4 linked regions of the Homo sapiens genome follow. The protein of the gene in region 1 interacts with the protein of each later gene in a pairwise test. Each region holds a gene or a part of one and is shown on either strand. Other genes may lie near its edges. The genes, in order: NEK2, CDC27, RHOB and ANAPC4.

What was found.
Region 2: the proteins of NEK2 (region 1) and CDC27 interact in binary tests that used the Homo sapiens proteins (3 or more experiments, as listed by UniProt).
Region 3: the proteins of NEK2 (region 1) and RHOB interact in a two-hybrid assay, tested with the Homo sapiens proteins (one study listed by IntAct).
Region 4: the proteins of NEK2 (region 1) and ANAPC4 interact in binary tests that used the Homo sapiens proteins (3 or more experiments, as listed by UniProt).

Annotation. Positions count from the first base shown.
Region 1 is NC_000001.11:211,665,252-211,673,279, forward strand, and holds part of NEK2 (serine/threonine-protein kinase Nek2), read right to left. Parts: intron 6,034-8,028; coding exon 5,951-6,033; intron 5,157-5,950; coding exon 5,030-5,156; intron 4,082-5,029; coding exon 3,862-4,081; intron 1,981-3,861; coding exon 1,855-1,980; coding exon of another isoform or gene 1,811-1,854; exon of another isoform or gene 1,166-1,810; intron 1-1,165. UniProt on the Homo sapiens protein: Protein kinase which is involved in the control of centrosome separation and bipolar spindle formation in mitotic cells and chromatin condensation in meiotic cells.
Region 2 is NC_000017.11:47,116,602-47,123,722, forward strand, and holds the end of CDC27 (cell division cycle protein 27 homolog), read right to left. Parts: intron 6,019-7,121; coding exon of another isoform or gene 6,000-6,018; coding exon 5,843-5,999; intron 4,417-5,842; coding exon 4,334-4,416; 3' UTR 1,102-4,333; downstream 1-1,101. UniProt on the Homo sapiens protein: Component of the anaphase promoting complex/cyclosome (APC/C), a cell cycle-regulated E3 ubiquitin ligase that controls progression through mitosis and the G1 phase of the cell cycle.
Region 3 is NC_000002.12:20,442,935-20,449,940, reverse strand, and holds RHOB (rho-related GTP-binding protein RhoB), read right to left. Parts: upstream 2,868-7,006; 5' UTR 2,476-2,867; coding exon 1,885-2,475; 3' UTR 501-1,884; downstream 1-500. UniProt on the Homo sapiens protein: Mediates apoptosis in neoplastically transformed cells after DNA damage. Not essential for development but affects cell adhesion and growth factor signaling in transformed cells. Plays a negative role in tumorigenesis as deletion causes tumor formation.
Region 4 is NC_000004.12:25,373,360-25,381,290, reverse strand, and holds the start of ANAPC4 (anaphase-promoting complex subunit 4), read right to left. Parts: upstream 4,029-7,931; 5' UTR 3,947-4,028; intron 3,874-3,946; 5' UTR 3,864-3,873; coding exon 3,735-3,863; intron 918-3,734; coding exon 812-917; intron 1-811. UniProt on the Homo sapiens protein: Component of the anaphase promoting complex/cyclosome (APC/C), a cell cycle-regulated E3 ubiquitin ligase that controls progression through mitosis and the G1 phase of the cell cycle.

The sequences.
Region 1 (8,028 bases):
GCTTATCTTATAGCTCTGATGTGTTCACTACTTTCAGCACTCAATACCCTAAAATGTCTGCTTGCCCCAGTGGATACTTGATTCCTATGGCTCATTTTAAATATTTGCCATGATTCACATATAAGTAGATTCCCATACTTATCTGTGTATCCTATAAAGTAAAACACATCATCCTTACTTAGCTATTTTCATCTTTTGCTCAAAGACTATCAGGGCAAATGTAAATAAACTCTTTAACCGAACAGCCATCCCCAACAGGGTCTTAAGTAATTCTCTGCAATGGGTTTGATGCATGAAATTCATCCAGGTAAAATTTTCTCCTCATTTTATCACCCTAATCATGATTTAAGTCTATTTTGTCTTTATGGATGACAGTGTGGAATCTATGAAAAGCCAGAATAAATATTTTTATAATATTGAAATGGTAGACTGCAATATTGGGAAAAAAGAAGGTATTTTAACAGAGATGAAGCCAAAGTTTCATATAATCCTTGTTTCATTTACTTCTATCAGTAGTTTCATTTCTTTCCATCACTTATTCACTACAAAGTTATTGTGATCATCAATCTAACTTAAGTAGGGTTTTTTGTCTGTTCCATTTACAAAATGCTGCCAATGCTCACTAAATTGATCACACTACATCTCAATTTATTAAAGATGGGAATAATAGCTTTCATATATGCTGTCCTACATGGAATAAGGGAGTTATAAAAACTCTAAATTTTATTGAAAATTCAGATGCTCGATTTTTGAAACCAACAACTTTTAACAGTTAGTTTGTGTCATAAATCAAGCAAAAAGATGTTTCACAGTTTGCATTTTACATAATCTTAAAGAGTCGATTAAATTAGATTGAGGGTTTCTATAAAATGGAGAATGTTAGACAATGGTTCACTGGTATATACGATAACCACATCTCAGTGCGGCAGAGTGAAGGGACAATGCCACACAAAGGCAGGGCCCTGAGAAAGCTGAATATCTATATACCAGACTTTAAATAAAGAAGGAAATGCAGAGAACATATGTAGATATTAAACAATCAAATTTCAACAAATATGTCTTTCAACTTGAAAGGGTGTTAGCAAAGATCCAAACGTGACAGCCTATTCTGCAGGTGGCTTATCATGCCTTTTAAGCCATGCTTTCTATGAAAAATGAGGCATGGCAATATTAAAATGTTTATTTTTACTTGAAATGCAGTTTATCTCTCTGAAATCTGAAACATACAATAGTTTTGTAAATGCCCTAATTTTTAAAAATAAGTATCGGCTGGGCACGGTGTCTCATGCCTGTAATCCCAGCACATTGGGAGGCCGAGGCAGGCGGATCACGAGGTCAGGAAATCGAGACCATCCTGGCTAACACGGTGAAACCCCGTCTCTACTAAAAATACAAAAATTAGCCGGGCTTGGTGGCGGGTGTCTGTAGTCCCAGCTACTTGGGAGGCTGAGGCAGAAGAATGGCGTGAACCCGGGAGGCAGAGCTTGCAGTGAGCCGAGATTGTGCCACTGCACTCCAGCCTGGGCTACAGAGTGAGACTCCATCTCAAAAAAAATAAAAAAATAAATAATGATAATAAAAATAAGTATCAATTACTAAACATGTAGTTTGATAAGGTAAAGAAAATCAAACATGAAATTCTATGACTCATTGCCTCAGGTCTATGAACCCAGGAAATAAATCATTGCTATAACAGAATTTTGTTTCCATTGAAATGCATATATTCAATGAAATCCATCTTAAAATTTGAGATTTGTAAATGAAAAGGGCTACCTAAGCCACTTTGGGAGCAACACTGGTGCACATTTCTTCATTTGTAGCACCAGCTTCTGTTGACCAAGTTGATTCTCATACCTGGATTACTTGCCAGAGACAGGAACTTCCGTTCCTTTAGCAAGCTGTAGTTCTTCAACAGATTTTCTGCTCTAGCCAGTTTGTCCTCTGCTAGTCTCTCACGAACACAAAGCTCCTGTTCTTTCTCTTTAAAAAGAGAATGGACAAAGAAAAAAAAATTAACAACTGACCTTGACTAAAAAACAATTTACATTTGGCAATCTTATCACTACTAGCATGCCTGATACTGATAAGCAATGTTTGGGGAAAGGATTCTCACTATGCCTCAGTCAACCTGATTATGTTAGTTTTTAATTGAGTGTTTTAGTAGGCTGTATGTTATCTTAGATTTTCTTGAAAGGACTTGTTTAAACAAATACAAAGTTAGCTTCAACCTTTGGTCATCTTTTGTGGGAGTAACTCATTTGGGAAAACAAAAAACTAAAGCTATCTCTGCTCTTCACTGAAGATAAGCAACAGCTAATTTTCAGGGCATGATCTGGCCTCACAGTACAAAAATCTCCTTCTTCTGGTTGAATGACCACACCCAAACAAAAGAAAAAAAACACAATTCAGTTAGGTGGTAGTTCATAGGATTAGTATTAATAACAAATGTTACTATTTATTCATGGCCCCAAATTCAGAAAGTATTCAGATTTCAGTTGCTATATGAAATTATGGCTGGTCACAGTGGCTCACGCCTGTAATCCCAACACTTTGGGAGGCCGAGGCAGGTGGATCACCTGATGTCAGGAGTTCAAGACCAGCCAGGTCAACATGGCAAAACCCCATCTCTACTAAAAAATCAAAAATTAGCCAGGCATGGTGGCAGGCGCCTGTAATCCCAGCTACTCAGGAGGCTGAGGCAGGAGAATTGCTTGAACCCGGGAGGTAGAGGTTGCAATGAACCAAGATGGTGCCACTGCACTTCAGCCTGGGCAACAAGAGTGAAATTCCATCTCAAAAAAAAAAAAGAAAAGAAATTATGAAACACTGGGGAAAGTTATAAGAAAAAGCTTTCTTATTTTTTACAGAGGTTTCCAAGTAAGTATAGGTTGTACCTATACAGTAAGCATATCTCACAGGACTATACAATATTTCATTATTTAAAGCCTGGATTGGGCATAAAGCTGCAGAAGTAAAATCAGGTGAGTCATGAGGGTGACAGGTCACAAATACGACCCCATCTCTCGTCTCCTGATGTTAAAATGAAGAACCTCACTCTGTAGCTACCTTGCATAACCCTAAATGCTTGCGAGTAGCTCTCATCTTGGTGGAGTAGACACACTTTCAATATCAAAACTAAATTAGCATCTAATCAGTTAATACTCATAAGTCAATGTTAATACCCACCAGAGTATTATTTATAGACTTAAAATATCTTGTATCTAGATTCTCTATTGAACTGCCTGAACAGACCAGGTGTGGTAGGTCACACCTATAATCCCAGCACTTTGGGAGGTAAGATGGGAGGATCACTTGAGCTCAGGAGTTCAAGACCAGCCTGGGTAATATAGTGAGACCCCATCTCATTTTCAAAAATAAAAAGTTAAAAAAAAAGAAAAGAATTGCCTGAACATATCTCATCTACATACTGTAGGGTTTTAGACCTGGAATTCTGTTGGAGTGGCCATTTCAAAAGACAAAAGTCATGGTTTTTTATTATGGAAAGCAGCAATTTTAAGACCTTCCTTTACAGTGGGAAAACATTAGGGTATTCACAGTAGAGACGAAAAAGAAAAAAGTAACTCTAGAGTAAAATACAAGGCTATCGTATTAGGGCCATCACAGTTAAGGCCCAATAATATATAACTAGCAACTGATCTCAGAGAAAGATGTCCAACATGAAGGTGCCAGCAAGCCTGATTATTAAAAAGTCTAAAATACATATTTTGGTTTCTCAAGTATTTTTCAAAAGCTTCTAATAAGATCTGTATGTATAAAATATTCTGCTCAAAGAGATATTCAGACACATCAAAATAACCCACTTGGTAGTTCTCCTTTGCTTTGACCCCCATTCAGACTTACGCTCCAATCTTTCTTCTCTTGCTTTGAGAGCTCGCTCTCGCTCCTGTAACTGAATTTCCTTCAGTTTCAGCTCACTCAATACAGGGCTGGAATCCTGCGATTTTTCTGGCTCTCCTAATTGTCGCCCTCTTCTCTCAAGATTTCTTCTTTGCTCGTCTGCAACCAAATCTGCTATTAAAGGGTTCTCAAGAATTTCTTCAACAGAAGGTCGATGGTAATCCTGGGGAAAAAATACTCAGTATTATAGTCAGATTGCATAACAGAATAGTCCTCCTAAGACAGCAGTTAAAATAAAAGGACAAAAATGTGTTTCCAAGACAAAAGAAAGGACTCCTTTATGGCTAGGTCTTAAAAACTTGGAAAAATAAGTTCACTGGTGGTTTTAACTCATGAGGTTCTGGGTCCACAAGGTAATGCAGATGTTAACTTACCTTTTTTCCCTTTTCCCCTTTTCACCTTTCTAAGAAGGTTCAATCCCTGAAGATTGGCACATCTTGTGCTGGGGCTTGGTAGCATTGCTAGGGTCTGTTTTAGGGGAAGTACTGCCCTTGCATTTCTAAACTACATTTAGCAAGATACTCTCTCACTGACTCTCAATCCTGTCACTTCATCTGTATCCTTCTCTGTGATCCTACGGCATTTTCCTTCTTCTCTTATGTCAGCCTGGTCCCCAGAACATCTCCTTCCCCATTCTATAGCCAGAGTTTTTCCACATAATCTCTTTATTGATTTTCCCTCTGTTTTTAGCTGTCCTCCGTCCGCCCTCCATCACCCCTCCCCTTCTTCTGGTCTTTAATCTCTCAATTAGAGCTAGAGGCAGAGTAATAAACTCTTATTTCTGGCCCCTTCCCTCACTACCTGCCACTGTGAGGTAGGCAAGGACAAGGGGAACGAGAATTTGAATTCTTTTTGCAATCTTTCCTTGCTACCGACCATCTGTTAGCATGACAGAGTGGGAGGAGAAATAAAGAAAGCGCAGAAGGTGGGCCAGCAAGGATGTGCAATTTGCCAAATTTACATATGTTTTCACTTGTGTTAACACAGTAAATTTAGCTAAGAAAGTATATTTAACGTTTCTTCAGTCTCCATTGATCTACAAGAGAGAATGTATGCTCTGACACTTAACTGACAGCTAGAAACAGACAATATATCATCTTATCATCTTTACCTTTAAGTTTAACATCCTCGTAATAATTTCATTCAATTCATCAGAGTAACGGTATGGAATTCGCCTGAATTTGCCTTCTCTGATTTTCCCAGCGAGTTCTTTCTGGCTAAAAGCTGTAAATGGAGGCCTAGGGTTAAAAAAGAAGAAGAAGACGACGAAGACATTTTCAAATTGTAAAAATGAAAATATACAATAGGAACTAAATCAAAAGCACAGCTTAAGCTCCAGTTTGTATTTAAGTTTCTACTTCTGGGATTTTCTTCTTATAAGTAAGTTTCCCAACCTTGGCACTATTGACATTTGAGGTCATATAATTCTTTGTTGTGGGGGGCTGTCCTGTGCATTATAGGTATTTTGTAGCCTCCCTGCCCTCTACCCTCTAGATGCCAGAAGCACTCCCCAGCTGTGATAACTAAAAATTTATCCAAACATCATCAAATGCCCCATAAGAGGCAAATTTGCTTCCCTTATCCCTAGTTGAGAATCACTGCTCTACAGAATAGTTTCAAAGGGAAAGAAAATGAAAAGAAGAACAAAGGAAAAGAATTGGAGCTCTTCCCTGCTCTACAGATCCCCAGACCTCTACCCGAGTCTTGTTTCATTTCTTCCACATCCTTACAGTAGCTTTACCTTACCTGCCTGACCTATGTGCTCTCCCTTGAGCTAAGTGTCAATCTAATAAGAAAGCACCTAACCAGCCAAGACCCTTGAACAGTCAAGACCCAGCCTCATGGCTTATAGTTTTAATTTGTGAATAGTTTCTTTTAGCCTGTTCATCTATCTACCTTAATTTTACCCAGGGTACAATTCTTTCAGACTTGAATATACTTTCGTTAGCACAGAGGCTCAAAAAACTGAACCCAGTGAAATGTGACAAACAGTACAAACCTTAGACTAGGAATCTGTCTTCATCATACTTACATTAATGCACATAACTCATACAGCAAGCAGCCCAATGACCAGATATCTGATTTCTCATTGTAGGACATGCGATTCATTTGTTCCTATACAGGGAAAAAGGGTAAGAAAGTGGAAGGTGTTAAGAGTTTATTTTGTTTTGAAACTTAAAAAACACATTAAATTACTCCTGAGATAAAAACAGAACCTCAAAGTTTTTAGCTTATACTTTATCTTGAAATTTATAATGGAAAAAAGGCAATGATCTTGTTCCAATACACTCCATCATACATAATTCATTCACTCATTTTCCATTCACAAATGAAAGTGCTTAGTATAGACTAGGCACTGACAATACAGAGGTGAATATGAGAGACTTCTACTCTCAAGGCAAATTAAGAAACACCATTTTAAAAGAACTAGAGGAAATTTAAGAATAGTCAAAATATGTATCTAGTCCACATTTAAATGGATATAGACATAAATAGCTAATTGAATTATCCATTTATATTTTGTCTTAGTCCACTCCATAAATCACAGTAGTAACTAATATTATCCTTACCTATTTTATTGTTTGCCTTTCTTCCACATCTACAGTAACAACAGCCTACCAGAGCTCCTATTCTCAACAGAGGGAATAGAAGCAATCTCTAGTGGCTGGTTAGTGTTTTAAAGTCCAACTGGTGAGTCTGATGCCACTTTTTGACAATCAGTGCCTTAGGAAAGCTGAACCACTCTAATTACAAGGGCAGGAGGGAAAAGGAACAAAAGAATAGGTTTCAAATTTCCCAAGAACCACTTCTGGATAATTGTCCTTTATGTTAAAAACATTCTATTTGGAATTTGATACAGTGAGAAAATGGTACTGTTCTGGCTATTTTTAGTCAAAACCAAAATCATTAATTTACAAAGTTTTATACTATAGTAAGATCTGTTAACATAATTTATAAATATTTGGAAAATCCTAGAAAGGTGAACTACTAAAATACTAACAAATATTTCTTCATCTTTATCTGTTCAGATGTTATATACTAACACATTAGTGCTATCACAATTGACTTAAACTTTTTAAAAGCCATCAGACAATATCTAATAACAGCCATAAACATTTACCCCAGCAATTTCATTTTATGAGCTACACTCCAAGGAAATAACCAAAAAGGAAGAAAGAATAATTCATACAAAGATATGCAGAGCAGTACTTCTAAGAATGGTGAAACATGTTGGAAACAAAATATCCAGCAATAGAGGTAATTGGTGAGTGGACTCAGCAAGATATTTCAGGGATAGGCAACAAAAAAATAAAATGTACAAAAAGTTAACATTGTAAAAACATGCTATCTGAAGTGAGCAAACTTCCTGAGCTCTGATTCTGCATACACAAGAATCATTTACAGAGCCTCTTAAATGCAAAGTCTAAAATAAAAAGTAAAATATTAAAAAAAAAAAAAAACAGAGTTCAAGAACCCACCCAGAGATCGAAATTCACTCGATGGATTTGGGTTTGGGTTTGGGACCCAGAACTCTGCATTTTAAACAAACACTCCAAGTGAGTCTGATGCAGATAACTAGGACCTACACATTGGGAAACAACTCTTGAGGGCAAGGACAAAATCCATTTCATTTTTGTAATCCTTGAGTTTAATGCATCATAGTCATTCCATAAAAGCTTGAACTGAATATGCTTTAATTTGCATGAATGCTCAAAAAATTGAACCCAGTGAGAGATGACAAACGGCGCAAACCTTAGACTAGGAATCTGTCTTCATCATACTTACATTAATGCACATAACTCATGCAGCAAACAAAAACTGATATAGACTTTATTGGTCTGGTGGTCCATGTGGAAAAATATAACAGTATTTTCAATTCTTGGCTACTAGATATTACTAAACAAACAGAAAACTCAATTTCCCTGCTTCAGAATGCTTAACATTAAAAGATGTTTTGGCTGGGCATGGTGGCTCACGCCTGTAATCCCAACACTTTGGGAGACTGAGGTGAGCAGATCGCTTGAGGTCAGGAGTTCGAGACCAGCCTGGTCAACATGATGAAACCCTGTCTCTACTAAACATACAAAAATTAGCCAGGCATAGTGACAT
Region 2 (7,121 bases), on another chromosome or scaffold:
GCGAAACTCTATCTCAAAAAAAAAAAAAAAAAAAAAAAAAGGCTAGAGGGCTGGGTGAGGTGACTCACGCTTATAATCTCAGTGCTTTGGGAGGCTGAGGTGGGAGGATTGCTTGAGGCCAGGAGTTTGAGATTAGCCTGGGCAACATAGCAATACCCTGACTCTACAAAAATAAAAAATAAAAAATGAGCCAGGTGTCGTGGTGCATGTTTAGTCCTGGCTACCTGGGTGGCTGAGGTGGGAGGATTGCTTGAGTCCAGGAGTTCGAGGCTGCAGTGAGCTATGATCATACTACTGCACTCCAGGATGCGGGGCAGAGCGAGACTGTCTTTAAAAAAATGCTAGAGAAGACAACTTACAGTTACCATTAAATATGACTTGAAACCTCCAGAGGAAGTCCAAAACTAAAATATAAGATTCTGAACATACACTAATGCCAAAAGTGCCCAGTTTTATCATTTAATAGCTGAGCCTGTTTTCTGTTTTGTAAAATGAAGTAATACCTACCTTCTAGTGATGAGAATTGAAAATACCATCCACAAAGCAAGTAACACAATCCATAGACCAGGATCTCAGCAAACATAGCTTTTAAACAAAGTTTGCACTTACAAAGAAAAATAAAACCTATACTGAACCTTCATGAACCATAAGTTGTCAGCTAAACAAGCCAAAGAATAGCTCCATGTCTAAGCTGCTGTTTATCCTTGTTCAGCTGACATTAAATGGCAGGTCCTAGGGAAGGTTATGAGGTCTGCATTGTTCCCCTTGGAACTGCCCAGCTCACCCCACCTTCACATGTTTTTCCCTGTTACTGCCTTTTCTTCAAGTCTGAATAAAACCCTTCAGCTCTTTGTACTTTCTCCAAGATACCAAAAAAAAAAAAATTTCAAATTAGAGTAAAATTTAGTTTCTACATCTTACTTCTTTCAGATCCTGACCTTTTTAAATAGATTCTAATTGGAACAAAAAAACCTTTGTGTCCCTTTTGAAGAAATTTCAGAAATCACGTGATCAAAGAATAAGCAGTTGACTTGCAAATTCGCAGCTGCTGGTTGGTAAGGGGCTTCTGTAGTTTGAAAAAAGGTATTCTAAAAATTACCATTGTTTTTGTCATAGTATTTATTTTGATATTCCAAATAATACTAAAAAAGAGTATGACCGTTTAAAAATATAAATATATTAAGAGTGTAAGTTTTAAAAAATTAGATAAACATTGCTCTAGTTTTTTGTGAAACATAAAACTGTATCTCTGTTTTTCTGTGCCTTCTTATTAAAATACAGATGGCACAGCTTTCATATAGCTTTAACAACTTGATTATAAATTGCTTTCAAAAGTAACTTATTTGGATTTTCCATATCCTTTAATGAATTGCAAATATATTAACAGAAAAGACTTTCCCCCTCAACACTGTACAATTTCTGAAATAAGTCAGTTAAAGCAAAAAGAAGACACAAAATTACATTGTTTCAATGCAAACAGAACACACACTTCATACCCACACTTGCATTTTCCCAGGTTTTCACAAAGAAAATGGGTCACCATATTTCTCAGTGAAGACTCATACTATACTCTGGCTAATCAGAGACTTCCAAACTTTTTTCTTCAAAAAGAGCATTTTTAATAGACTAAATACTGGTTATCACTGAGTTTTTGTTTAAGGTACAACAGCAGCATGGTTCAAATGTTACTTGTAGTTCTCGGAAAAATTAAAAATTTTAAGTGATGAATACAGAAAATGTAGGGACCACCTTTCATTCTTTTGAGTACCACTGTTCTCTTGAAAAAATATTCTAACCTTCTAAAATCCCAGAGTTAAGAACCATTTCCAAGGGGAAAAACAAATCCAAGGCCACAACATAACTTCTGAACAAGTGTGTGCGCGTATATATATATGTATATAGATGTATTAAGTTGGTGCAAAAGTAATTGCAGGTTTTGCCATAAAAGTCATGGCAAAAACCACAATTACTTATGCACCAACCTAATATATGTGTGAAACAGAGAAAAGGATGTCAAACTACTTAATTTAATTTCTGTAAAATAAACTTCTGAAATTTGAAGCAAACATTTTGCTTGATCAAAATGTGTTCTTCTTCGGGTTGTTTGATCCCCATTCCATGCAAAAAACAAAACCAAACAAAAAAAGAAACTGCAAAAGCCAGAAAGTGTTACTACGTGGGAAATAAGGCTTCAAATACCTAAATGACTTTGAAAGTAGGTATGAGGAAAAATAAAATAGGCCAAGCTTGGGCGGAAACTGTCCCCCAACCAGCCATTGCCATGGCATGTCTTACAAAACGATCCTTTTATCCTTGGTCTCAAAAAATCAGTACCAGAAAGACTCTCACCTCTGGCACATAAATTCCTGCTACAAAAAGATAATTATACTTCAGCAAGTTATGTTCTAAGCTTAGCTTTCTCCAGGCTTTATAACGCAGAACTCAGGTTGAAGCTTTCTATAAAACTCTAAATGACACTGTTATACAGCACCTTGTGCTTTGCCAATTAAAAAAATAAAAGAATCTAAAATTAAATATTACAGAACTAATGGATAATACAATAGCATACGTGTTAGAATCCAAGTGCTAGCCTCTGGGAATTTTTCATTATATTTATTTTCTCCCAACTGTTCCTTTTTTTTAAAAAAGTATTGTTTTAGACAGTACATATACATAAATTTAGGTAGGGAAATCTGTTAAATATCTCTCTGGCACCTGATACCTAAAGACCCTGACTTGAATTAATTTATAAATTGTACCTAATCCATGTTCAAATGAGATTAACAGTAAATTATAGAAAATTACTGAGTCTACAGACTAAAATTTTTTTCACATCTTTTGTAATCCACCTTATTTTCACAGCTTGACTAACAAATACAGGTAAGTTTGTCCTCCATCAAATAATCCAGAATAATAACTGTAGGCCTGTCATTCATAAGAAACTATAATTTGTTATATTCTGACACTGGCACTTAATAAAATGTTAACAACTAAAATTTCTCTAAAAATTTCAATACATTACAGTAAAGGAGATAAACAATTTAAGACTGTTTAAATCTGTTACTGTGGAATTCCAATAATTATCATTTTATATGCATAATTGAATTCTTAAAATTGTGGCCATTTTCCAAAGACACCAATCTATATTATGACAAACTCAGAAGAGAACCTATCTCCTTCATAAGAATGTTTTTTCCCCCAAGCTAAAAATTTCCAACATCCTAAACCCAATTACTCTTAGTAAATGTTTTGGTGACTCACACTACTGAAAAAATCTGAAGCAGAGAGTCAAAAAGAATGGAAAGGATCTCAACCAAAGGTAACCACACATTCTTACACTCTGCTTAAGCAAACACTTAGAAAAGTCAAAGGGATGTTTTGAACAAATATAGATTCAAGGTTATGGTACAATTCTGATTATATTAAGGCTTTCACTATCATGATCTCTTAAAAGTCTCTCCACTTTAGTGTTCTCCTTCTGATTCATATGGTGAACTTAAGGGGTTATTAAGGGCCTTGTTTTGGCTTCTCAGTGGGGAACCACTCTATCATCTCTGAATGTTAAAGGTGATCCCACAGAGCTCAAAGAGAAGAGGCAATATGGTAAGAAACAATTTTAAAGTTTGCAATACCAAGACAACAATGATCAACACTTTGAAGCAAGATGAATAAATTAAAATTCTTGGTTAGACATTAAAGCATTCTTGCCAAGAATAAGAGTACACTGTATGGAGGGATATTTGATTCCTACATACGAGTCCCAATATGCCCATTACATTTGTTTATGGGAGATACTGCAAGTTTAAGGTAATTTACATTCCTTGGCAATCAAGTCACTGTTATAGGCAACGTCTTTTATTGTTCCATCTGGCACTTGCAAACACCATTCTTGAAGAACCTAGAAATGAAGGTCAGTTACTCTGTTTATCAGGAACAGAACCAAATAAAAACAAATTTTTGAAAAAGCAACCAAGAAACTCTGGTTCATCACTATTTTCCATATCTAATGGTTCCTTCAAGATAAAGCATAACTCTTCCTTTCATGATACTTTCCAACAAAGGGAGATTAAAGAAAAACAGAAAAGAAAGTTCCCCACCCTACCCCCCATAAATTGTCATTCATACTGGTAAAAGAGCCAGTCTTGTTAGCAGCTAAATATTGCACTGCCTTTCATTCTGTATACAGTCAGGGTCCAATGAAAGTGGCACACTCATGGTATAAGTGACGGACGATGACACCGCCAGCTCAAGAGTAAAGACTCAGTATACAGAGGGACAAGAAACACGTCAGCACTAGTCACACATCCAGTTGTAAAAGTCTGATTTCCAGAAGTTAAAATTCATCACTTTCAGCTGCATGAAGTTGTGTGTCATCCGCATCTGTCATGCTGCTCTCCTGGGATTCATCTGTTCCCACTTTAAAAATAAAACAGAAGTCCACAGTAAGTTTTCTGACAAATATGTCCTGTTGGTTCATGAAAACAAGTAAGAAAAATTGTATTATATTCAGAGAGATAAAACCCTAAATAAAGGCCCTTAAAAATCCTCATATCCTTTAATAAAATGCAACTCAAGTTTCCTAACTTTATAATAGGTCTGATATTAGCTTACTGCATTTTACCTTTAAGTTTTAACTACCAAAACTGCCTCTTCCTAATGAGTTCCTTATTCCTGCCCTAGGAATTACAACTAGCTAGTTCTCTGAGACATTAAAAAAAAAAAATTGACATTTCCCCCAACCTCCAATCACTGACTCCACTTTAAGAATACTCCCTGCTAGTCCACAGAAACACAGACTATAACCTTCAGTTTCAAAAGGTTTATGGGGTCAGTCTATCAGTCAATCAATCAATCAATCATCTATCTTGCTCTGTCACCTAGGCTGGAGTGCAGTGGCACAATCATAGCTCACTGCAGCCTCAAACTCCTGGGCTCAAGTGGTATGATTCTCCTGCCTCAGCCTCCCAAGTAGCTGGGACTATAGACACGTACCACCACAGCCAGCTACTTTTAAAAATTTGTTTAGAGACAGGGTCTCACTGGCTAGTCGTGAAATCCTAGGCTCAAGCAATCCTCCCACCTCAGCCTCCTGAGTAGCTGCGATTACATACGCAAGCCATCATGCCTGGCATATATATACTTTTTTTTTTTTTTTGAGACAGAGTTTCATTCTTGTCATCCAGGTTGGAGTGCAATGGCGTGATTTCGGCTCACTGCAACTTCAGCCTCCTGGGTTCAAGCAATTCTCCTGTCTCAGCCTCCCGAGTAGCTAGGATTACAGGCGCCCGCAACCACGCCCAGCTAATTTTTGTATTTTTAGTAGAGACGAGGTTTCACCATGTTGGTCAGCTGGTGTCATCTCCTGACCTCAGGTGATCCACCCACCTCCACCTCCCAAAGTGTTGGAATTACAGGCCTGAGCCACTGCGACTGGCCCCATGGCTTATAATTTTAATTAAAGCCTTTCACCAAGTTTTCTGGAACAAAGGCATCTAATCAGAATTTATCTTGTCAGAAATTTCTCCATTCTGTTATTTAAAAAACTACATTTTTATGAAGCAGATAAAACAGTACTGGTTACATATTCAAACATAAATTGAGGTCCAGGTAAAACTTAGCAATGAATTTGTCAAAGTCACACAGCAAACTAGATCCAGAACAGAGACTCATTATCTGACTTTATATGCATTTTGTTATTACATCACCCTGTTCAATTTCCCTAAAAGTCCATTTGGTATAATGAAAACACCATGGTTAGAAAAATAAAATAAAAGAGTAGCCTACAAATCCTTATGCAAAAGGTAACTTTCTAAATACTCAAAATCATATGTATGATACTTACTGATCTGTTCTTCTTGGGTTATTGGCTCCTCATCATCTGGAAGATAACGCTTATCAATTGCCTCTTTAATCTGGTTATTGGCTCCTTTAGGATCTAAATCCATAGCCCAAGAGAAATTCATCAGGGCGAGGTGCGTTTGACCTAACTTCTTGTAAACCTAAAAATAAACAGCAGCACTACATTTTTCATTAAGTTGTGAGCTTCAACTATAAAATTCTAACTATATATATACTTATTTATTTATTTTTGAGATGGAGTCTCACTCTATTACCCAGGCTAGAGTGCAATGGCACGATCTTGGCTCACTGCAACCTCCACCTCCCAGGTTCAAGCGATTCTCCTGCTTCAGTCTCCTGAGTAGCTCGGACTACAGGTGCCCACCACCACCCCTGGCTAATTTTTGTATTTTTAGTAGAGACAGGGTTTTGCCATGTTAGCTAGGCTACTCTCAAACTCCTGACTCAGATGATCCACCTGCCTCCCAAAGTGCTGGGATTACAGGTGTGAGCCACCGCGCCCAGCCTCTACAATTCTAAATATTTATAATTTAAATTAGGCTCCTGATTTATGTGCTCTAAACTCATTCTAAGGGTAGGACATTTTCTTCCTACAGATGAACTCATACCAGCTTTTGAGTTCCTTTTAATATAATCAGACATTATTTTCAGAATTCCTTGCTTCTATCTTTCAGGTAGTAAGTTTCCAATAAATATCACTCTGACTGGAGCAATGATAATGGGATTAAATGGATTATAAACTGCTTAATTAACTTTCATTTACAGTGATTTTAAATTGAGTTATATCAACTCTTTACAACTGTCCACAGTCACCTTAACTAATTGGCATATGGAGGTCTAGTCTGTAAAAAACTGACTAGTCTGGCCTTGGGACTCTCAGAAGCCATTTCTCTTAATCAAGACAACACAGTGCCATTCATGTTCTTCTACTTTTTTTTCTACTTTTTTTTTTTTTTTTTTTTCTTTCTGAGACAGAATCTTGTTCTCTTGCCCAGGCTGGAGTGCAGTGGGGTGATCTTGGCTCATGGCAACCTCTGCCTCCCAGGTTCAAGTGATTCTCGTGCCTCAGCCTCTGGAGTAGCTGGGATTACAGGCATGTGTCACCATGCCCAGCTAATTTTTTGTATTTTTAGTAGAGGTCAGGTTTCACCATGTTGGTCAGGCTGGTCTTAAACTCCTGACCTCACGTAATCTACCTGCCTAGGCCTCCCAAAGTGCTGGGATTACAGGCGTGAGGCACCATGCCTGGCTAGGATATCATT
Region 3 (7,006 bases), on another chromosome or scaffold:
AACTTCCTGGGATATTGTGTAAACCCCTTGATGGCCTGAAGGGAACCCAGTAAACAGGCTTCCTGATAGCGTGACCCCACACCAACGATTAATAAAGGTTTTCTAAATTTAAAATGCACAAATGATAACTTTCCAAGACTCAAAGAATAAGCAAAGCCCCATAATAGACTTAAAGACACAAGTGTTTTTAAGACACACAGATGAATGAAATCAAGATCTTCGGTCTCACCCAATTGAACTGAGTACATAATAGGTCAAAAGTTTTTGCACTGGGTGTCGGGGTATCCACTCATCTTCCTCTAGGAATGTGACAGGAACAACCTGGTCTCCCTTGGTCACCCAACCCCCACATGCTCTCAAAGGGACTTCATCCTCATTTACTACATTTGCTATAAGGGAAACGGAGTTGGCAAGAAAGGATCTCGCCTAGGAGAATATCTCCCTTGTTCCAAATTCACAAGGGTATTTTTACACACTATTAAACCACAAGAGCCATTTTATAAATGTCATCATCATAGTCTTTTAATATTTTACATAAAAAACTGTATACACAGCTTATAGAACTTTTATGTAAACATCATAAGCTCACCATTTTGTCATTTGTCAGTTTATTTAAAAAATAAAAAACAAGACAACAATTTAGTAGAAGTACCACTGGGAGGGAGGGGAGGGGAAAAAAGGATATACAGGGGCAGGTGTATTCTCTGTACAGAGGTGCAGAGAAAATTTCACATAGCTTTAGAGAATGCCTTGTGGAAAAAAAAAAAATAGGCCCCAATACTTGTTACTGCCCTTTATCAAAACTGTGTGCATGACCTGCACAAATAAAATCACAAAACAGTGTTGCCACATTCTTCAAGGAAACAAAGCAAAATTTAGTGGGTTTCTTTTCCCTCTCCTTGTTAAAAGTCATTTTTTAAAAACATCAGAAGTAGATGAGGTTACAGCGTACAAGTGTGGTCAGAATGCTACTGTCGTATGCAAATGACGAGTGCATTAAGTGTCAAACAATGAAACAATTGTGCAAAGAATAAAAAAACAAATTTTAGCCTTTAAATAAATCAAATAACATCAGTTTCTTGGACTGAACAATTTTCACTTCTAGGACAGGCACAAAGTTCGCTTATGGCAAAAACAACCCCACAGCGCATCCTCCCTCCTCCCTCCGGTAGCTGGTGGAGGGTTCGCAGCGGGCTGGCCCGCAGGAGAGGCTGTGCTGAAGCTGTGTCCTCCCCAAGTCAGTTGCAAATGTCTTCCCCAGGGGTTGGAAAGATGGTCAAGTCCTGTTCATGCTTGGGCGGGAGTCTGGCCCAGCCTGGGCCAGAGCGCTCACCCATCACCACCCTTAAATAACACCATCTTAGCTCCGAAAATAAAATTATATCTATATTTATATAACATCCCCCCATCCTCCCCAGCAGCCCTCCCCTCCCGCAGTACCCGGGGTCTATGTTACAGACAAGGGATATCAAGCTCCCGCTGGTGAAGGGCGAACATCTGATGGGGCGCGGCCACACTCCCGCGCCAATCTCGCCCCCGGGGATCAGAGGCGGGGGTGGGGTGAAAATGGGGCGAGGGGAGTCGAACAGACACACAGCCACACACTCTGAGGCCCGGCTCTTCAGAAAAGCATGCTCAGGGGACCCTTGGCACTCAGTGGGGAGCCCAGGCCTGTGCAACACAGCTGGACGCACACAGACACTGGGATGGGGGCGCCCGGTGCCCACGCCAAGTCCTGGCGCAAGCCAGAGGCGTCAGCAGACAGATGCCAGGCAGGCCGGTGGGGTCCTTGTGGGACACGGGTCTCCCCTTCTCCGGGCTCGCGGGGGACTGGTCCAGGAGGGGGAGCCGTGCCGGCAGGGGCAGGCGCGACGGGCGCGGCCCTCATAGCACCTTGCAGCAGTTGATGCAGCCGTTCTGGGAGCCGTAGCGCTTCTGCAGCGCGGCGCGCGTGGCCGTCTCGAAGACCTCGCGCACGCCTTCCTTGGTCTTGGCAGAGCACTCGAGGTAGTCGTAGGCTTGGATGCGCACGGCCATGGCGCGGCCGTCATCCGTGCGCACGGGTTCCTGCTTCATGCGGGCCAGCTCTGTGCGGACATGCTCGTCGCTGCGCAGGTCTTTTTTGTTGGCCACCAGGATGATGGGCACATTGGGACAGAAGTGCTTCACCTCGGGGACCCACTTCTCGGGGATGTTCTCCAGCGAGTCCGGGCTGTCCACCGAGAAGCACATGAGAATGACGTCGGTGTCCGGGTAGGAGAGCGGCCGCAGGCGGTCGTAGTCCTCCTGGCCCGCCGTGTCCCACAGCGCCAGCTCCACCTGCTTGCCGTCCACCTCAATGTCGGCCACATAGTTCTCGAAGACGGTGGGCACGTACACCTCGGGGAACTCGTCCTTACTGAACACGATCAGCAGGCACGTCTTGCCACACGCGCCGTCGCCCACCACCACCAGCTTCTTGCGGATGGCCGCCATGAGCGGGCCGGGCCCGGGCAGCAGGAGGGGGCCCGCGAACGCCTCGCTGCCCTCCCGCTCGCCGCTCACTGCTCACCTCGGGCTGCGCGCAGGTGGCGAGAGGGTCGCTAGCTGCACCCGGGCCCCGCGGTGGCGCGTTCTCTCGCTGCGCTTCGGCTGCCGCGGCGGGGGCGGTGGGGGCGCGGGGGCATAGGGCGCACCGTGCGTCTCGCCGCGCTGCTCCCGGGCGGTGGTCGCTCTGCTCACCCCAGGCCGGGGATCGGCGGCTTTGTGCGTAACGCGGGCTCGGGCAGCAGACTCGGGCGGTGGACTCGGCCTAGCTCTCTCCCGGGTCTCTCCGGGCCTCGCTGAGCATACAAGACAACAGCTCCAACCAGACTGCGGTGGCAGATGAGGGCTGCGGCCCTAGCGCCCGCTATTTAAAGAGTCCGGCCACTTTCTTAATATAGCCGTCCAATGGGAAACCAGCCGGCTGAGCTCATCGCTGCGGAGCTTAGCTCTGATTGGCCGCCCCCTGCAGCCCGAGGGCGGGGCAGGGCCAGCTTGATTGACGGCCCAGGCCGCCGGGCTGGGAGAGGCAGCGACCGGGGAGTCCGCGCTGCTGCTGCCGCTGCGGGGCTCTGGCGGTACCCGGGTCCCCTCCTTCGCCGCAGCGTTTGCGCGCGGGGTCCGGGAGCTGGCTGTCTGGAGCCTCCAGGGTCTGGGCGAGCGGTTCCGAGACAGGCTTCACTCAGTGGGGCGTTGGCGACTCCCATTCAGAATTGCCCCTCTTCCTGGCAAACTCCCGGCGGGTGGTCGGGCCTGTGGGGGAGGGGCAGCTCTTTTAACGTGGTTTTGTTTTTAAATAAACAGACACACACACACACACACACACACACACACCCCACACACACACTTTTGTTCCCAAACAAGAGTGTTTTCTCTTTTCTTTTGGAGGTGGCCCCTCCTGTGGTTTAGGGCCCCACCCGGGTACTCGCCGTGGGCCAGCCTCGGGTTTGGACCCGAGAGGCGACCGGCTGGCTGCAAACTGGCTCTTCCAAGTCCCGCCGCCCCTACCCTTCCCAACCCCCAGCTTAGGTCTCTAGGTGAAGATTAAGGGAAGAGGTGCGGAGTGGCCCAAGCTTGACAACGGAAAGGGAAGGTCGAGGCTCGAACACTTGGAGGAAGTTACCGGACAGGAAGAAGCCCCTTCGGCCCCTCTTTTCACTATGAACTCTGATCCCGGTTCTTAAAACAGAGAACTGTCTGAGATAAATTGTACAATAGAATATACACTATTGTACAATAGAATGTACAATAGAATATACACTATTGTACAATAGAATGTACAATAGAATATACACTATTGTACAATAGAATGTACAATAGAATATACACTTGTACAATAGAATGTACAATAGAATATACACTATTGTACAATAGAATGTACAATAGAATATACACTATTGTACAATAGAATGTACAATAGAATATACACTATTGTACAATAGAATGTACAATAGAATATACACTATTGTACAATAGAATGTACAATAGAATATACACTATTGTACAATAGAACGTACAATATTCCGGGTTCAATAGAATCCAACCACCCCAAGACCCCTGAGCAGACGAAAAGGCTTGAGGCTGGAGAAGAGGGGAGGAGTAAGGGGCTAGCAAATGGGGCACAGCGGGTTAGGGGGTGTCCCCTCTATTGGGGCGTAGCCTCCTGATGCACGCCAGGACTGAACTCATTTATCCTGTAGATCCTGCATGAAATGACAGTACCGGTGATCCGGAAAGACCCAAGTCAACCGATTTCTACGGATAAAAGAGGAAGAAGGGGATAGGGGGAAAGGGGAGTCGGGGAGGGCTCCCGGGCAGGAGAAACAGCCTGAACACAAGCAGGAAGGTGGGAAGGAGCGGGGCAAACTCTAGGAGCTGCATATGCTGGGGCTCATGAGTGCTAAAGTATTAACAGCATGGGCTGGGCTCTGTCTATCCATTGCATGGGAAATGTCTGCAAACTGTTTTTTCAGCAAAGGAGGGACCCACCACATGACCGGGAGGTGGTTGCCTCCTGTCTCCGTCTCTGTCTCGGTCTCTGTCAGTTGTTGGAGGGCCAGGATTCTGTCTTATCTCCGCATCTTGAAGACCCAGCACAATGCCTGGCATTTACAAGGATCAGTAAATGACTGTGGGGAATTAACCCGAATGCTCAGAAACGCAGGTGGAATTTTCTGGGGGTTTCTTACCTCAGTTCCACACTTCGCTTTAACAATTATCTAACCAGGCCGGGCACAGTACCTCATGCCTGTGATCCCTGGGCGTGGGAGGCCCAGGCTGGAGAATTGTTTGAGCTCAGGAGTTCAAGACCAGCCTGGGTAACATGACAAAACCCCGTCCCTGTCCCTGAGAAAAATAAAATGGGATGGCGTGGGGAGGAGAGTGGCCTGCACCTATAATCTCAACTACTCAGGAGGCTGAGGTGGGAGGATTGCTTGAGCCCAGGAGGGCAAGGCTGCAGTGAGCTATGATCACAACACCCCACTCCAGCCTGGGTGACAGAATGAGACCCTGGCTCAAAAGAAAAAAAAAAAGTAAACATTAAAAAGAAAATCATTAAGCAAACCCATGCAGCCAACTGTGACTGAACCCCGGTGTTTTCACATGTAATTCATATGTTAAGAGCTAGGTCCCCATATGGCTCCACAGATGAAATCAGATCAAATAAGGCAGTAGTGCTGCTAAGCCTAGAGCCCTTCCTAGAGGGAACGTCTTATTTAGACGACTGGAAGTGCTGTGCTTCCCTCAGACTGGATTCACATCACTACAACAACCGGCCAACCAGCTTTTTTTTGTTGTTGTTGGCCGGGGCGGTGGGGGGCGGGGGTTTGTTTTTCAGATCTAAGGAACTGATCTGTCAGCAAGTAAATAGTTTTTCTGTTCATTGATTTAAGGATGCAATCTGGAAGCTTTTTTTTTTTCCTATTAGAAAAGTCTTATTTACACAAATTTTTCTTCTTTTAGTCAAAACCTTTTATAGCTGTATTGTTAACGCCGCTTTCCTTGGTCTTAATATAGCTTGGGAAACTTGGCTATGTCCTTAAACTTCAAATACCAAGAAATATGAAACAAAGCTTTGTACCATGTGTTTTTTTCTTTAAAAAACAAAGAATCCGGAAAACGGATTGAACTCCTTCGTGTTCTGATTTCCAGGAATATTATATGAGGTGTTCCAAGCTCAAATCTCAATATTGCAATAATTTCTAAAACTATGCAGTTGGTAAAAATGCCAAAGTAAACAAATAGATCTGTGTTCTGCAGTAACTTCTTTAGTAACTTCTTTTCATGGTATTTTTTTTTTTTTAGTCCAGGATACTTTGACAAGCTCTGCAGAGACTGGCTGCTTCCAAGACTGCCCCACACACAGGATAAACTTTTCCCAACTAGGTGATATGCCGGACAAGCCCCTCCCTGTCCCTTGCCCTTCATAATACACTTCCTCAGACAGGGATAAAATTTGATTCTTCTATGAGAACAAGTCATTTTATTTTATTTTATTTTTTGAGACAGAGTCCTACTCTGTCACCCAGGCTGGAGTGCAGTGGTATGATCTTGGCTCACTGTAACCTCGGCCTCCTGGGTTCAAGCAGTTCTCCTGCCTCAGACCCCCGAGTAGCTGGGATTACAGGCGTGTGACACCATGCCTGGCTAATTTTTGTATTTTCAGTACACAGGGTTTTCCCTTGTTGGCCAGGCTGGTCTCAAATTCCTGACTTCAAGTGATCCACCCACTTAGACCTCCCCAAGTGCTGGGATTACAGGCGTGAGCCACCGCCACCAGCCAAGAACAAGTCATGTTAACAATTAACTTTATTAACATATTCATCTTATGACATAATATATCCACACCTGTGAGACAGGGAAGTTGTATTTCAGACAAAAGGAGGATATTAATCTATCTCTAATCTTTAACCTAATTTATTTGGTTTTGTTTGTTTGCCAGGTGTCTCCTGTAAATCATTCTACACTCCTCAAAGACCAGAGCAGAGTTGGAATTTTCATTAGATTTTAGTGCCACCTTGCGGCAATCTTTATGGGGTCTTTTTCTTAAAAAAAAAAAAAGAAAGAAAAGAAAAGAAAACCTTTGGTCAAAAAGTATGCATTTTATGGATATTTTTATTTTAAAATATTTCAGAGCATATAAAACTCTGAATAATGTTTTACAAGTAGATTCTTAGAAATTCTTCATATGTATTTATACACACATAACTTTTTCATATACACTTTACAAAAATATTAACGAAAATGCCATTCAGTGGAAAAAAAAATTCCTTCCTAAATAGTAACTTCTAAAAGAAATTAGAAGAGAAAGATAAAGTCTATGGATCTTCACTAACTTACAGACTAATGGACTTCACTTTTCGTTTATTATAATGTACAGAAATTTAAAACAACTTTAGCCACAAAAATCATTCCGTTTTTGCCCCAGTTAAGAAAGCCATTGCTGGATACTCTGGTATAGTTAGAAGTAATAATAATTCAT
Region 4 (7,931 bases), on another chromosome or scaffold:
AGCAATGAGGAGCATATATGTTACAAAAACAATTCACTTTTTTTCTTAAAGCACCAATAAAATTTTTAAATACTTTATATTTATCTACAGAAAAATTAAGCAAAGAACAACACATATTTTACAAAAACAGTTCACTTTTTTCTTAAAGTACCAATGATACAAATGAACTTTAAGCTGTAGGGTTTACAGCATTTTACTGTGCTGATTGTATGTGTACAACAGTTCCAATACAGACTGTCATTGTAAAAACATTACATGGAAAAGGAGAGTTCAGTCACCAGAGCCATAACAGGCTTTAACGTAAGAGGGTACCAGAAGAAAGATCACACACAGAAATGGAAGGTATGGGGTCAAAGGTGATAGTCCCCCAGGTGAGGCAAACACACATGCACCAAGGGAATATGAGCCACACATTTCATGCTAAAATATATTGTGAAAGAAAAAGGCCATGATGGCTTTGAACTAACTCACTGGCGAGTGGCAAGTGGTGCTTGGGCCAAATAATACAGGACAAGATGACAGTGGAAAGAACAAAACCAAAACATTTTGTATATTCCATCAGATTTCACTTCGGAGTTATCTTTGCCAAGAAGCCAGATTTTATTTAAGAGATATCTTTGCCAAGAAACAAGATAGCAGAATTAATCTGAGTTCTATAAAAATATTTTAAGGCATTTTTTTTAAAAAGTTCCCAAAGTGATATTTATAATTCTTATGTATACTAAGAACAATAAATCCTTTCTGAAAATGGGCTTTACAGAATACTCTTTGTGAAAATAAAAACATATTTTTTTTGTAATATTATCATTACGTTTGCCATCTGGTCTCCATGCCAGACACGTCACCTCCTTTCCTGTATTTTCATTTGGTGGAAAACTCCAAACTCGATGAAAACTTGCCAGTCGATGAAGTAAAACCTAAGACAAAGCAGATATAATGGCAGGAAATTAAAAATTCATTTCCAAAAATAAAATAAACCTAGATCCCTACTAAAAATTTTTTTAAATGACCATCTCTCATATATACTTAGCTATCAGAAGAATAGAAAAAGACAACAGTGTCTGAATGAACACAAGGTATTTTAAAATAAATGGGTGAAACAAGGTCTAATTTAACCCTGTACCTAATCTTTTATGTCAACGGGAGACTTACCTTTTATAAAGAAGGCGGCTGTCCAAGGTGACAACCAAAAAAGAAATAAAAGAACACAAACACCACTAAAAAGGTAGCTAGCTGTAATACAGTCAAATTATACTAAGCTTGGAATTAGTCCACGTGGCACCTAGTTTCAGCTGTGTCACTCACTAGCCATGGATCTTAGACATATCACTTAACCATTCTAAATCTCCATTTCCACATCAGTAAATTCCCACCTTGGAAGGTCAAAATGTTGCCCAAGAGCTCTATGACTGCCCCGTTGCAGCTTCTATACAACCATTGACAGTAAGGAAGAAAAGGCCTCACCACTGCACATGCTCCTCCAAGACCCCTCCCCATTTCCACACTCAGCTAAGCCACCATGACCCTGCCTTATCTCACAGCTCACAGCACCCTTCACTCCTGGTTACAACATCCCCTGGATTTGACCCTCTCTTTTCTGAAACCACTCCTGCCATACCTTACTTCTGAAACCCTTCCTCTGTGCTTTCTGCAGCTCATGGTCAGGTGTCATCATGAAATTAATATCTTCGTACTTTTCTCTGAAATGTGCCTCTCACCTGAGGACAATGCTTCCCTGCAGCCTTGCTAGGTGGTGGCCATTTTGTATCCCACAGCCCCTGTACTGCTGCTTTTGGGCTAGGAGATGAAGTAGGTGTCTTCCTTGATGCTTGATGCCATTTCTTCTCTTCTTGTAAATCTCCTAACTTTGAATCACATGCAATCAGACCATACCACTCGCTATCCGTCTTAATTGCAGTCCTCTACAGACCCCTAGGCCATTCCCCTCATTCCTTAAAGATCTGGATACCTGGCTTGCTCATGCCTTCTAACAACACACTCATCATCATTTTTGGTGATTTCAAGAGCTATGATGTCCTGGCTTTTCAGCTCTCAATTACCTCTCCTCCAGTGATCACATCTTCTACTGCACTCAGCCACTCCCAGGGTCACACCTCCGGCCTGGTCATTACCAACAACTGCAGGGCCACCAAAATCTCCATTTTAAACTTCCCACTTTCCATCCACCACCCCTCTTTCCAGGTCATCTCTACAACACTCAACTCCAATTCTTTGACCTCACCAGGATACAGTCTATTGATTCTACCACCTGTTCACTGTCCCTCTCCCCACACATGCCTTCACTTCCCTCCTTCATCAGGTTAGAACCCAAAGTTCAGAAACACAATCACTCCTCTTGCACGTAACTTCAACTCTCTTTCATCTTTGCCTTGCTTTGTCATACTTGCAAAACGACAATCCTGGTTAAACCCAACCATGCCTGCACCCACACAGCCAAACAGAACGGAGAGAGACACATACAACCTTATTCAACCAGTGTCTCTCAAATAATAACACCGATCTCATGTGGGTCTTAACACTGACTGGCAATCCTATTAGGTTTCCCAAGTCCACCTGCTTTGTTAGCTTTTTCATACCTCTTCTTTCTCCTCAAACTTCCAATATATTCTTCTCCATCTTCACCCATAAACAATGCCCTTGCTTCTTCCTTCACTGAGAAAATGGATGTAACAGTGCCCTCTATCACGCCTACCCATCTGATTGCACGGATGTGCCTCCCGTCTACCTTCCCTCCTACTTCTGTGACGGTACCACCTGCTGCTCTCTAGAGCCACAACAGAGTTTCAAAGCATCCCGGCAGCGGAGGGAGACTAGCTAGATTTCATGGAGGGCCCTGAAAAATTAGACATCAATACCCTGGCGACTGGATCATGGTAGATAACATGGTGCAGACTACAGTCTGCAGGGTGCTAAGATTTCCTTATCACCTAGTTTCCAAATTTGGCTCTATACAACTCTCACATGGCCAGATAACTCTCAAGCCAGAGGCGGAAAGATGCACAGGTGAAGGTTTCCTTACAAAATGGCTGGCAGGTAATAACTCTCAGCAGAAAGTTGGGTACAACTGGTTTATACTCGATGAAGTTTTATGTGAACAAGAAATGCTGATAACACCCATGCACGTTCTGTCTGGAATCCAATGCATGCCTTCCTTGTCCAATTTAGAGGTATTTTTAGTGGAGGGTGGTTATCCAACCCGTACTATAAAACGTGGACAAGAGAAGCCAGGTTCTTAAATATATCCTGTGTGGCAGCTACATGCAGGCACATTTGCAGCTGAAGTTTGACAATAACTCTTCCTACTGCTATTAAAACTGTAAGCAAACTTAGGGCAGGGTCCCTGCATCTACCATTATGTCTAGCTCATGAGCAGCACATAGTGGGCTTTTTTAAAAAGTTCATTTAACTAATAAACCAATGAGTGAAGAAGACTTGGGGAAGCAGGATTGCGTGACGGTGTTAAGCTGTGTGAAAACTGTTACTTTAGCCATAAAAGTACCGAAAATAGCACAGACATCACCTTTCGCATATATACTTAAAGTTTACTGCCGTCCTGGGAGGCAGGGAAGGGGTAGCAGGTGGCCAGCCATGTCTGCAGAAGGGGAAACTGAGGCTCCGGCCGCCTGTGGCCCGAATGAACAGGCTCGGGCTCGGTGTTCTTGGGCCCCCCGGGAGCAGACCCAGCACAGGCGGGCTCCCGCCGGCTCACTCACCTCGCCAGCTGTGTTGGCCAAAGCAATGAGATCCCGCTTGGGCGACCAGACCAGGAAAATAATCTCCTGCGGGAGCTGCTTCTCTCCCACCACCCGGAAGGATGGGAAACAGGTCGGAAAACGCAACATGGGGACGGCCCTGCAACGACACCCCAGTCAGAGGCCGGCAGGAGCCCCCGGCTCTCCACGAGGAGCCCCGACCGCGCCTGTACCTGCAAGAGTCCCCACCGGCAGACTAACACGGCCCCAGTGGCCTCTCCCCTCCCTCTGCCGGCCGCGCGCCACAGCCTCCAGGCCGCCCCGCCCCGCCGCTGTCGCGCGCTCCAGGCACTTCCGGCGTCGGGACTGCCTCGCGAGAGGAGGAGGAGGGGCGGGGCGCGCACCGGTCTTGGGGGTGCTGAGAGCCAGAAGGGGCGGACAGGGACGGGGCGCGGTGGGCGGGGCAGGGAGGAGCGAGGGGCGGATCGAGGTGGGGGTAGGATGGGGCCCGTGGGCGGGGCAGGGAGCAGCGATGGGGCAGAGCTAGGAAGGGTGGGGCACGCGGGCGGGGCAGGGAGCCCCGAGGGGCGCGGAGAGGGAGGGAGCCGCGCGCCGGACCCAGGTGCTGGTGGGATCGCTGGGCGCCGGGACCTGAAAGGGCCCGAGAAGGGCGGGGCAGGCCCCTGCGGCCACACGCAGGTCTTTTGGGAACCCGTGTGTGCACGTGTGTGGGCATGCTTGCATACCTTTCCCGTTTTCCCGGAAATTCTCTGCTGTGGGCAAAGGGACGGTAGGGGTTTATGGGGTAGGCTTCAGCGACAACGGGGAGATGAAAAAGAATATGAACTTTAGGTCCTGATCAGCTGGCGCCTCCTCTAACAGTTACTAAGCGAGTAGTTCTCATGTCAGTCCTGGTGGGTCAGTATAGAATTTTAAAAGTCCCCCTGTCCAAGCAGCACCCCAAACCAATTAGAAGAAAATTAACCCTGGATGGGCCCAGTATTTACTAAAACTCTTTGGGTGATTCCAATTTGGAGAGAAGAGGCGCGTGCCCTAAAACCTCCCTAACAGGCAAATAATACTGTGACATCTCATCCCATTTAACCCTCACAACTTATTGGTAGTTGCAGCACCGTCATAACGAATAAAGAGTGTGGGCTCAGGGCCGGGCGCGGTGGCTCACGCCTGTAATCCCAGCACTTTGGGAGGCCGTGGCGGACGGATCACAAGGACAGGAGATAGAGCCCATCCTGGCTAACATGGTGAAACCCCGTCTCTACTAAAAAATACAAAAAAGTAGCCAGGCATGGTGGCGGGCACCTGTAGTCCCATCTACTGGGGAGGCTGAGGCAGGAGAATGGCGTGAACCCGGGAGGCGGAGCTTGCAGTGAGGCGGAGCTTGCAGTGAGGCGGGGCTTGCAGTGAGGCGGAGCTTGCAGTGAGCCGAGATTGTGCCACTGCACTCCAGCCTGGGCAACAGAGCCAGACTCCGTCTCTAAAATATAAAAAAAGAGTGTGGGCTCACACACGATTTCTTCTATAGGTACTTGGGCATTTACTATGTGGAGGAACTGAGGCTACAGCAATGCATGGGACGGGAACTCTGCCCAGAGGCTCACAGGCCAGCCTGGCAGACTTGTAAATCAGAACTCATCTGATGTTGCTTTATGTAGGACACATTTAAATGAGTCAACCTGTTGACAGTTCCCACAGCTATGACCTCCCTAAGAGAATGTGACAGTACCATCCTAGGGTTCTTAAACTTAAAACCTATGGTAGAAAGCCATCTACTTTTTACTACCTTTCACTTGTTCAAAGAAGAAACAGACGGCAGGTCCTTTAACTTTCAACAGGCCCCATCTTCTTGACCTCTGTCTGGATCTAGCCCCTGGGAAGTAGATGACGGAGGGAGACTAATTCATTCAGCATCAAGTAACTATTTTGTGCCAAGTACTGTTCTTAATCCTTGACTTTATACCTACCCTGCTTCCTGTCACGGGCTTTGCAGCCCTTGCCTTTGCCACAAACAACTTACCAAGTGCCCCCAACTCTTCCAGAATCAACATTTCTAAGGTAAAAATGCATTTGCCTTTGTTTTTCACAAAATGCATTTTCAGGTGTTAGTGTTTTGGGGCAGTTATAATGGATCACCTGGTGGGGGTCTAGTATCTATGCACATTAACCTTCTTACGGAAATTGAATGTCCATTTTCCTGGAACTTACCTGAATACAAACACCCATACAGCACGTGAAAATCACTGTTCCCAGAGGCATAAACACCGTACTGCAAAGGACAGAGTATAACCACCTGCACATTAAGTCTTCACAGAATATAAATTTTCTAAGCCTTACAGCAAAGGAAACAGCCTAAGTGTGGAGTTCCAGATGTGGGCAGGAAACAGCAGAGTTTTATGCTGCTATAGACCAGGGGTGTCCAATCTTTTGTCTTCCCACATTAGAATCGTCTTGGGCTACACATTAAATACATTAACAGTAATGACAGCTGATGAGCTAAAAAAAAAAAATCACAAAAAAAATCTCACAATGTTTTAAGAAAGTTTATGAATTTGTGTTGGGCTGCATTCAAAGCCCTCCTGGGCCACAGGCTGCGAGTTAGACAAGCTTGCTATAGACCCTCATGTGTGTTGGTAGGCAGTAAGGGGCAGGAATTGTTCTTGGAAATGATCCAAAGTAGCCGTAAGACAAGAAATATTAACACATCGTGTTTCCAGCCTTTTCTTTTTCCCACTGCCCCATAAAGATTTTAGCTCTACCTACTCCGTTTTTTGCCTCCCCCATCCTTAGGAAAATACTGCAGAATAAAGAGAAAAAGGGAAGAAGGCTCAGGGATCGGCTATCAGTGCTTTTTAAGGAGGCAAGGGCAGGAGAAATAAATATTTACTTAAGCATGTTCATTATAAGGTTATTTACGAAAGTGAAAAAATGCAAACAACCTAGATGTCCCATCATAGATTTTTAAAAAATATATCTATCCTGAAGAATATTATGCAGACATAAATCGATGTTCACAGTATACTTATGAAAAAGCATGGGTCATAAAACAGTATGTACTTAAAATTCCATTTTCTTGAGGGAAATTTTTGCATGTGTCTGTAAGCCTATTTATGCAAGAACCTATCTTTGGAACAGTAGACAGGGAAGTTATAATAGTGATTATCTCTGGGTGGTAGGGTTAGAGATGCTTTTATTTTTCCTTGATTTACCTGGCTCATGTATTAACTGTAAAGTTAACAGGCAGCAACCTTTGTTTTCCTCTGTTTTTTTTTTGTTTGTTTGAGACAGTCTCACTCTTGTAGCCCAGGCTGGAGTGCAATGGCGTGATCTCGGCTCACTGCAACCTCTGCCTCCCGGGTTCAAGTGATTATCCTGCCCCGAGTAACTAACTGGGATTACAGGCACCCGCCACCATCCCCGGCTTTGTATTTTTAGTAGAAACGGGGTTTCACCATGTTGGCCACGCTGGTCTCGAACTCCTGACCTCAGGTGATCCACACCCTTCACACCCCCCCCCAACCCTTGGCCTCCCAAAGTGCTGGGATTACAGGTGTGAGCCACCGCACCTGGCCTGTCTTCTTTAAGCATGTGGAATATTTGGGCTGACTTCCTCTAGTGTTCTCCCACTCCTCCTCTCCACACTTGCAGATGAAGAAACTGACCCATCTATTCAGGCCTACCATCTTAGAGATTACCGGCTGTTTCACCTCTTCTAGTATCCAGTGGTATGAAGCAGTTAAACCAGGGATCTTGTAACTAACTGTTCCACCAAAGACAACTGGGATAAAACTCAGCCTCTCAGGGCTCTGAGATCTTGTTGCTCAATGTTGGTGCTATTATAGCCTCATCTTGCTGAGTTAACATTTATACTAAATTGCCTGAAATCAAATAGCAGAGATCTTATCTTTACTTTATTGCAATGACCTTCTTAGTTGACCCTTAATTTCAGCCCAGGTCCTCATGGTCCAACTAAAATCACATCAAATAAGTGAAACTGGATTTTCCTTTAGATTTTGTGGAAGCTGTCCTACCTAGAGAGCTCGAAGTGTATCTGCTTCTTCCATAGTATAGTTAAGGTGTGAGGCATAAAGCGGTATATTAAATGGCATTTCCGTTCACTCAGTTGGTATTTATGAGCACCTACTACCTAGATGGTGAAGAAATGTGTTAGCCTGGCTGCCTGCTTCCCATTAACTGAGGTCA